Linked DNA regions of Homo sapiens. The protein of the gene in region 1 purifies or fractionates together with the protein of each later gene. This does not show direct contact. Each region holds a gene or a part of one and is shown on either strand. Other genes may lie near its edges.

Region 1 (5,571 bases):
CCATGCAAATTCTGAGCCTCCCTAAAGGAAGTGTGGTCTCTGGAATGCATCACCCCACAGGGCTCGAACCGAATCTTGTTGTCTGGGCATCTGAACCTTATGGGACAGCTTGTGCAGTCTGTGGGTGTTGCCCACATCAAGGATGTGCAAGCCTAGTGGGCAGCTTGATGCAAGAAGGAGCCAACCTGAGCTCCGCCCAGCTCACACTCTCGGGCAGCCATCCTGCTTACCACCAATCCCTACTTACCATCGGCACCAACACTCTCGTGGCCATTTATTGAGCATCTACTAGGAATTAGCCCTGTGATAGGTGCTTAAAAGACAATTTGTTTAATCACCTCCGTGCAGTAATTATAAATCCTAGTTTATAAATCAGTCAGCCAAGATCAGGGAGAGTAAGGAGCTGACCAAAGACTCCACATCTAGAAAGCGGCTGAGCTATGTTAAAGAGCCCCAGGACCCCGCCACAGTCTCTCTCCCTGTGCAACTACCAGGTGCCAGGACTGCCCCACAGGCCAAGCAAGGCGTGTGGGGTGCAGGGCAGTCTCTCGGGATTTGGTCTAGATGAGCAGAGGGGTAACTAGGCAACTGAGACCACTGGTGCTGAAAACCTCCTGGGGGAAAGAGCAGTTTGCATTGCTCAAAATTTCTGAAAAACCGATTCAGCTTCCTACTTCTCTTGCTGCCGAGGACATGGCCTGGAAAATCTGATTTCACCTGCCTGGGGGAACCCGGGGCAAAGCTGGGAGAAGGTCAGGCTCACCTGAGCTCACCCTGTGACACACCTGTGGGAGGTGGGATGTCCGTGGTGGACTCCAACAAGGGACCTCAGAGAAGCCTCCCGGCCTCGGCGGTTGGAACGCACATGTTTCGACAGTCCGCGTTTTACATATATCATACATAAAATACAAATGTATATTGTATATACTTGAAGATACGTGGCTCTAAATATAAAAACACACCTTTTTGTATTCTTAACCACTGACACTCAGGCAAATTCATGGCTGGATTTGTCACTTTCATGCTCCCAAAGCCAGTGATGGAACTGGCCCCTCCTGGAGACCTTAAGGACCAGCAGAGACTCTTCCACTCCTGATGCTGATGCGACTTGCATACTGGGAATCCATGACAACCTGTCAATGACAATAGAGGCTGACAGCTGCCACTGACAGACCCCTCCACAGGCCCATGCTTTACCGAACATGTTCGGGGGAACAGGGAAACTGAGGTACACAATAACTCCACTTCCACCAACTGTCAAAATGTTTATTGATCTATTTGGTGCCAAGATCGTGCAACTTTTATCAACACAAATAAGCACTTGGCACAGCCACCTCCCCTGAAGCCCCAAAAGCCTATAGTGGGGGCAAATGATATAGGACAGTTTCTTAAGACTTAAAAGGCAAAGTGGCATCTCGAACCTGCATGGCTGTTAGGTGGTTCTAGCTGTGGCCGTCCAGCCCAAGGGGAGTCTAGCACCACTGCTAAGGAGGATTGCGAGGTGTTTCTTGCTGATGGTGAAGAGTTGGTTCGTGGAGGTCACAATCAACCTTTATCCACCATCCAGATCCCAGAGCCACTGGGGATTTTCAACTTGTTACTAAATAAAATTCTCTTTTCTGCCAGTAGAGCCATTTCCCAAGCCCACTGAAACAATAACAAATGATTTTAGTTAAAAGACATCAAAAAAGGAGCCGGGCATGGTAGCTCACACCTGTAATCTCAGCACTTTGGGAGGCTGAGGCGGGCAGATCACCGGAGGTCAGGAGTTTGAGACCAGCCTGGCCAACATGGCAAAACCCTGTCTCTACTAAAAATACAAAAAAACTAGCCAGGTGTGATGACTCATGCCTGTAGTCCCAGCTACTTGGGAGACTGAGGCAGGAGAATCACTTGAACCCGGGAGGTAGAGGTTGCAGTGAGCTGAGATCGCACCACTGCACTCCAGCCTGGGTGACAGAGCAAGACTCCATTTCAAAAAAAAAGAAAAGAAAAGAAAAAAGAAGACATCAAAAAAAAAAAGAGAAGAAAATCAGACTATAGTTCGAATCTTTCTGACATCCTTATTAGTTTATGGCAGGCACTGATTCCAAGCCACCTTTCTTCCTACCCCCATTCCCATTAACAACAGGTACATATTAGAATGTGCTGGAGCATTAGGAATAGCTGATCACCACCTGATACCGCCGAAGTTGAGTCACAATAGCTGCTTAGCTCGGTCCAGCATATGGCATCTCAACATCACCTCTGAGCAAACTCCACCTTCCTCCGTGAGGACAATAACCCCAAAACACTCCCAGTCTGCAGCAAGTGTGTGCCAAGAAGAATCACCCTAGGAATTCTCCTTCTGGGGGCCTGCAGCAAGCTCTGGCAATGCGTTTTTGCCATTTGATGGCCTTTGGAGGACTAAAGCCATCACTGTGAAACCTTGACCACCCAGGGCAACTGGAGCGGGTGCAGGGGAGGTGGGTCTGCATTGACTTCTGTACCTGCCCCTTAGCTCTAGAAGAGAGGGCAGGTATGAAACTCGGGCACAGTTTCCTGCCCCCAATAGTGGAAACTTTGGAGCATTAAAAATCACATTTTGTACCAGAGGTGCTTTTCAGGTAACGGTCCTGACAACCCCATAGAACAGATGTCATTCTTCCTTCCACCTCACAGAGGGTCAACTGGAGACTCGGGAGGATACCACGCTCACCCCCAGAATGAAGGTCTTCAAAGCCTGTATCTTGACCACAAGAATCTGGAATCTCTTGAAAGTTCACCTGCCCACTTCCTCCCTTCATCCAACGCACATGAGACTCCTACCAGGTTCAGGGACACAACCAACAACAACCCCTCGGTGCTTGGTGCCTGGAGGGAAAGCAGACATGGCACAGCTAATGACACAAAGATTCGATTACTGCCATGACAGGTGTGACAGGAGGAAGGCCAGGGTGCTCCTGGGCCCCAAACAGGACACCAGGCTGGGGGTCTCCCTAGGCGAGGCCCTGAAGGTGCCTCTGAGTGTGGCCTCTCAGCTTCCCTTCTGAAATGACTCGTGTTCTTTCACCTGTCTCCCTACAAGGGCAGCAGCTCGTAGAGGGCAGGAATTTGTCTGTGTCGTTCCCTGACGTTCTGCGGCCCTGGGAACAGCACCGGAGGTCAGAGGTGTGTGGCAGATGGTGCTGAACGCTGAGCCCCTGCGGAGGCTGTGTCTAGTGATGTCCCCTATCAAGTCTACATTTGATTCCCTGGGAACATTCCCCAGCTACTCCCCAAACCCCCGCCACGACATCTGTTGGTGCTGGTATGTCAGAGATGCACAGAGAGCTGGAGACAGAGACACCAGCTCCTCATGCAGCCTGACAAGGCACGTGTGTTTTGGGGAGACATTTCCAATGAATGTCAGCCGGTGTCTTGCCAGAGCAGAATGGACCCAATTGCTCTGAGAGGTGGCCAATTCGTATGTGTTCTTCCCTAACAAATGGTCCAATATGGGCTTGCAGTCTTGGGAGCCTAAAATAGCACTGCAATGGCCAATCTTGCAAAGAAAGCCCTGGAGCTCAGGAGGTCGGTGTAGTGGAAAAGAAAGCCTGGGAGTGTGGACTGCAAGGTCAGGGAGCTTGCGTTTGAATCCCAATGGAGCATCAGTTCCTGGCTGTGTGACCTCGAGCAAGTATCTTACACTCTCTGATCCCATTTTTGTATCCGCAGATTGGTGCAATAGCTCTCTCAGGGTTGTTTTGAACACTGAGAAAAATGCGTCACTAATACCTGGCACATAATAATCTCTTCACATTCAACTAGGAAAAAGAGCAGAAGCAAAAAAATCCATCAGTAACCCAGGAACAGAAAAGAGAAGCCATTCTGTGGCTCTCGGATAGTCTGGGGATGCCCCAAGCTCTTCCAGGCTCACCCCAGGGTGCTGAAGCCCCTGCCCTGGCTGGTAAGTCATTCTGGGATTTTTCCCGGTTTGGTGACAAACAGTTCTGCCAGTGCCTGCCTGACAAGACCCTGACGAGACCCCTGAGGTGTCAAGGTTTGGCTTTGTAGTGTCATCCAACGGGAAAATGAGGTTGACTGTCAGTACTCGGCACTGTCACAGCTTCACAGAGGGGTGCAGCCCACCCTGGGGAGAAGGCAGGAAGGAGTGCTTGGAGCAGAAGTGAAACTGAAGACCGGCCCCTCCCCGGCCCTCCCCCGCTGCACCTGTTGATGGGGGTGGGGGACATCAGGGCCTTTCTTTTAATGGTTTGCCCCCACATATGATCACCTGTTAAAAATTTCAATTGATTCTCACAAAGGGGAGCCCCAAACCATCAGAAGCTTCTGGGCTTTCTGCTCCCAGGTTAGGCTGTCTTAGGAACTGCAGCCAGTGGGGCATCTGGACGTCAGGGCGGTGTTGACCTCACGGCCCCAGTTTTGTGCCTTGCCTTGTACCCCCTCTTCCAGCCTCTGTCCACCAAGCCTGGCAGTGGATTAAGGGAACCCTGCTGGCAGACCCGAAGAGACCGTCTGGGGCCTCTTGGGCCAGCAACGGGCATGCTGGGGTCGTTGCCAGCCAGGTCTGCGGTGGGCCTGGCAAGGACAAGGAGTATTACACAGATAGTCAATTACCTCCATGTTCAAGGCCATGGGCCCCAGATGGGCCTGTTGATTCCAACCTTCCCAGCCAGTCCGAGGATGGGCAACCTTTTTCTGGTGAAGGCCTTCTCATCACTAGGCACTCTGTTACAGAGTGACCGCTAGGGAACCAGGCAGAATGGACCATCGAGTCCAATCCGCCCCACCATCATCGCTCACCTCTATGAACACACAGCTGCTCCAGACACTAGGCCACACACAGCCAGAATCTCTCTGCACCCTCAGCACAGGGACTATTATCACCCCACTTTACAGACCCATCAGATGACAGTGAAGGGGGGCACAAAGGGGACACGGCCAGCAAGTTTTGACGCCTCCATCCCTCTGGCCCTCGGTCTCACTCCTAACCCACCCACAGCAGGGCAGGTCACTTGATGAGACAGATGGGGTCTGCCAGCAGGTTCTGTGGGGCTTCTTGGTGACAGGGGAGACAAAAGGAACTGCCAGCACTTAAAACCCAGGAGTTTTATGTCAAAATCTAACCATTCGGCTGCCCTGGAACGGAAAGATCTGGCCACTCAGGGCCCATGTGGCAATGGTGGGCTGAGCAGTGGCCACAGTGCCTTTAAACTGGACTCTTGCCCCTGGTTCCCTGGAGCCCACCCCAAAGACAACTGAGTTTGCTTCCCTGAACCATGCTCCCCCAGCCTCGGGGAGCCCCTGGCACAGCATGGTACCATCCTTGTCACTCCAGAGGGTGCATGAAGAGTAGGTCCGTCTCCCGCACAGCTCCCGCACGTGCCCCAACCATGCGTGCGTTACGCAACACTTTGTAAAAAGCAAAAAATGGGCCCTCGGCTTCAATCTCCTTCTCTCAGCATGTGCACCGTACAGAACCCGAGGCTGGCAGCAGCACAGCCTCCGAAATTCACCGTGTAAGAGTTCCTTCTCTTTGGGCAGGATCCCAGACACCGAGGTGCCTGCAAACTTGGTCTCTGGATGCTA
Region 2 (4,580 bases), on another chromosome or scaffold:
CATGTGGATCTAAGGTAACCATTTTTGAGAAATAGATCTCATTTGAGTGGCTGGCTTATATTGCAGGGGTGGGGAGTAGGTTATTAACCAAGGCAAACAAGCTGGGTAATTGAATGTGGGCCCGTTTTTCTATTTCTGCCTAGAGGGAAGAATTATGATTAATAGTAGGGTTTGCTATTACTGGAAACTCTCACTGATGTATGTCTTGAAGGTCTTTGTTTTGCAGATTGGAACCCAGTTGAGTGAGAGAGCTGTTTTTTGTTGTTGTTGTTGGTTTTTGTTTTTTTTGTTGTTCTTGTTTTTTTTTTTTTTGAGTCAAAGTCTCGCTCTGTCGCCCAGGCTGGAGTGCGGTGGCCTGATCTCGGCTTACTGCAAGCTCCGCCTGCCAGGTTCATGCCATTCTCCTGTCTCAGCCTCCCTAGTAGCTGGGACTACAGGCACCCACCACCATGCCTGGCTAATTTTTTTGTATTTTTAGTAGAGACGAAGTTTCACTGTGTTAGTAGCCAGGATGGTCTCGATCTCCTGACCTCGTGATCCACCCGCCTCGGCCTCCCAAAGTGCTGGGATTACAGGCATGAGCCACCATGCCCGTCCTGTTTTTTGTTGTTGTTTTTAAAGAGATGGGGCCTTGCTCTCTTGCCCGGCCTGGAGTGTAATGATGTGCTCAGAGCTCACTGCAGCCTCAAACTCCTGGGCTCAGGTGATCTTCCTGCCTCAGCCTCCCAAGTACTCAGGCATGTTCAGTTTCATCAGTGTAAAGGAGCATCACCTTTTGCTCCCCTTTCTTCTCCTTTCATATGGTTCAGCCTAGGAAACCTATACATTCCAGTCCCATAAAGAATTGCTTGGCTTCACCTTTCCTCAGAATAAAGGAATCAGACCTGTCCCTCCTAGGGAAGTATTAGCAATTTGCAGATATAAAATTCTTAATTTGGAGGTAAAAGTGGTTATAATTTATCTGATTTTTGAGAATTTCTTGGAATGTGACAAGATAAGGAACTCTAAACACTTTGTTAACTTGCTTTCTAAATTGTTAACATTATTTGCCTCTTGAGTTCCTTGTATTTAGAAAACCCTCATATTCCAGAATTTGAGCCCTATTTTATTCATCCACCAGTGGTAGAACTTCATTAGAGCCAAGGACAATGGCTTGCACTGACCTCAGGTAGTAAGAATGAGATGATTTCTGAGTTACCTGGTACATGTAGGGAGACATCATTTTTCTTGATCTGAATTAGCTTACACATAAGATCAATCTGAAATGTCTGGAAGTAATAAATCTTAGTAAGAGCTTTATAAATTCTTCAGATTCATAGTTCTAACTTGAGTTTTTAGATGACATCACCTACAGGATATTTAAATACCAGAATAGACATTAGACACTCTGTAAATGTTGCATGACCATGAGTAACTGCTTCCTTCCTGGCTCCTGAGCTGAGGAGGGGAAAATCAGATAGGTTTGTTCTAATTCTGCCTTAATACTTTATTTGTTGTTTATTGTTTTTGTTTTTGCTTCTGTTTTCAGAGATAGAGTATCTGTCTGTCGCCCAGGCTGGAGTGCAGTGGCATGATCTCAGCTCACTGCAACCTCCACCTCCTGGGTTCAAGAGATTCTCCTCCCTCAACCTCCCGAGTAGCTGGGATTACAAGTGCCCGCCACCACACCTGGCTAGTTTTTGTATTTTTACTGAAGACAGGGGTTCACCATATTGGCCAGACTGGTCTTGAACTCCTGACCTCAAGTGATCCACCTGCCTCGACCTCTCAAAGTGCTGGAATTACAGACATGAGCCACCACACCCAGCCTAATTCTGCCTTAATACTTAAAATCAAAGCTAGTGGAGTAATTTAAGGAGAGTCTTGCTTAGTTTCTCTAAGTAAAGGGCCACTTTTATTCAATTTTTTTTCCCTTTAAATGGAAATGGTACATCAGATTGATTATTTTTTTCTTTGCATTGATGTTGTTTGAGTTTGATATTATTTCTTCTGTGGCATCATTAATAATTCCTCCTCCCTTCTCCTCTTTCTCCTCTTTGTACAAAGTGTGGCTGTTACTTCTTGGTCAGTTCTCTTTCTATCCATGTTTTCTGCCTTGGGGGTTGCATATACTCTCAGGCTTCATTTTCACCTTTCATCTTGATGTTAATCATTCCCCAGTCTTTCCCTATTCCTTCTTTGACTTCTTGAGACCAGTTCCACTTAAGCTGCCAGCTGGATAACTTCTTGGTTTTCCCTATTCACACATTTAACCAAATACATGTAAAACAGAGTTCAGTGTCTTTCTTACTCAACCAATTCTTTCTCATGGATTTCTTTTTTTGCTGATAGCAACACCACCTCATTGGTTTTCCAGACACACAACTCTTGGCTGATTCTGTCAGCTCTTCTTTTACATGAGTTTCTGTCTTTTATCCCTTCCTTTTTCTTCTCACTGTGACTGTTGTCTTCTACCTGAGCCATTTGCTTCCATTGTGCAGCCTCCCAAGCAAGCACAATTTTGCTCAGAGCCTGCGGTTCTCTAGTTCAAGGTACTCAAGCCCTCATATTTGGTTTCAGCCCACTGGTATGTGAGTCATTTGAGGATGAGGCTCTATCTCTGAGCTGCTCATGTGTGGGCCTCCAACCTGTGGTGGCAAGTTAACTATTTGCTACTTTTCCACAATGAGATGTGTACAGAAGTTAAGACTAATATTTTAGTAACATATAATGATTTGACATTGCCACAATATCCAACTGCATTACGAGTTGATTCTTGCTGTACAGGGAATCAACTAGTTTTTTTTATTTTGTTTTATTTATTATTATTATTATTATTTTTTGAGACGGAATTTCTTGTTGCCCAGACTGGAGTGCAGTGGTGTGATCTCGGCTCACTGCAACCTCCGCTTCCCAGATTTAAGCAATTTTCCTGCCTCAGCCTCCCAAGTAACTGGGATTACAGGCGCCCATCACCATGACCGGCTAATTTTTTGTATTTTTAGTAGAGACAGGGTTTCACCATGTTGGCCAGGTTGGTCTCAAACTCCTGACCTCAAGTGATCCAACTGCTTCGGCCTCCCAAAGTGCTGGGATTACAGCCATGAGCCACTGCGCCTGGCCTCAACTAATTTAGATGTTGTCAAACTTGCACAGTGAGTTGCATGTGATGTGAGCTGTGTATGGGTTGTGTACTATACATCAGTCTGTCATGAATTACAACTTTAGAAAATAGGTCTCCTTCACCATAGATAATTTAAGCACTGTTTTTATTTATCCTTCAACCCCAGTGTGAGTCCTTAGTAGGTCCAGTCCTTGGTTAATTGCCTCACCCACCTTTGTAGCACAGACCCTTGCATCCCCTGCCCTCCTGTAGAAGCTATTCAGGCAGGCACCAAACTTGCCCTGTGCTCTTCTGTTTGATGCAGAGGCTGTTCCATTGCTTCCTCGCACCTGCTTTTCTTCTCCCATGTACACCTGTTCCATTCTGCCTACTCTTGGGAATCAGATGATTTGCTTCCTTTTCCATAGCCTCTTTTTTAAAAAACCATTCTCTACATTTTATACATCATTCGTGGCACTTACCACATACCTGTAGTTCCTGTATTTTATAAAACATATTTGACTCTCCTTACTAAATTGTGAAATCTGTTGAAAAACACCTTGTTTTATTCATCTCTTACTGCAACAAAGCCATAGGTCATCATCGTTGTCACCATCACCATAGCCCTTCTACAGGCTGGAGTGCAGCGGTACAAGCGCAGGTCATTAGAGCCTTGATCTCCTGGACTTAAGTGATCCCCCTCCCTCAGCCTCCTGTGTAGCTGGGATGAAAAGTACACACTACCACACTTGGCTAATTTTTAAATTTTTTAGAGAGATGGGACCGCAGTTTGTTGCCTAGGCTGGCTCAAACTCTTGGGCTCAAGTTGTTCTCCTGCCTTAGCCTCCCCAAGTGCTGAGAATTACAGGCATGAGTAACCACGCCTGGCCAGAAGGGAATTTTCATCATATTTTGCCTTTTAAAAAGTTTGTCTGGGCCAGGTGCAGTGGCTCCTGCCTGTAATCTCAGCACTTTGGGAGGCCGAGGCAGGTGGATCACCTGAGGTCAGGAGTTCAAGACCAGCCTGGCCAACATGGCAAAACCCCGCCTCTACTAAAAATGCAAAAATTAGCTGGCTGTGGTGGCATGTTCCTGTAGTCCCAACTACTCGGTAGGCTAAGGCAGGAGACTTGTTTGAACCCAGGAGGCGGAGGTTGCAGTGGGCCAAGATCGCACCACTGCACTCCAACCTGGGTGACAGAGCAAGACTTTGCCTTAAAATAATAAATAAATAAATAAATAAATAAATAAATAAATAAATAAATAAATAAAAAGTTTGTCCTAGTTACATCATGGTGACTGTGGTCAACAATATGTTGTAGTTGTTTGTATTCTTGTTTTTTCTTTTTCTTTCTTTTTTTTTTTTTTTTTTTTTTTTTTTTGAGACAGGGTCTCACTTTGTTACCCAAGCTGGAATGCAATCACAGCTTGTTACCCAAGCTGTGGTGCAATCACAGTTCACTGCAGCCTCAAACTCCTGGGTTCGAGTGATCTTCCT

Evidence for each region. Proteins that work in one complex are often made in the same cells at the same time.
Region 2: the proteins of PMEPA1 (region 1) and PHLPP1 purify together in Homo sapiens (affinity purification with western blotting, with the first as the bait; one study listed by BioGRID). This does not show direct contact.

What each region holds. Positions count from the first base shown.
Region 1 is NC_000020.11:57,699,054-57,704,624, forward strand, and holds part of PMEPA1 (protein TMEPAI), read right to left. Parts: intron 1-5,571. UniProt on the Homo sapiens protein: Functions as a negative regulator of TGF-beta signaling and thereby probably plays a role in cell proliferation, differentiation, apoptosis, motility, extracellular matrix production and immunosuppression.
Region 2 is NC_000018.10:62,895,998-62,900,577, forward strand, and holds part of PHLPP1 (PH domain leucine-rich repeat-containing protein phosphatase 1), read left to right. Parts: coding exon 1-14; intron 15-4,580. UniProt on the Homo sapiens protein: Protein phosphatase involved in regulation of Akt and PKC signaling.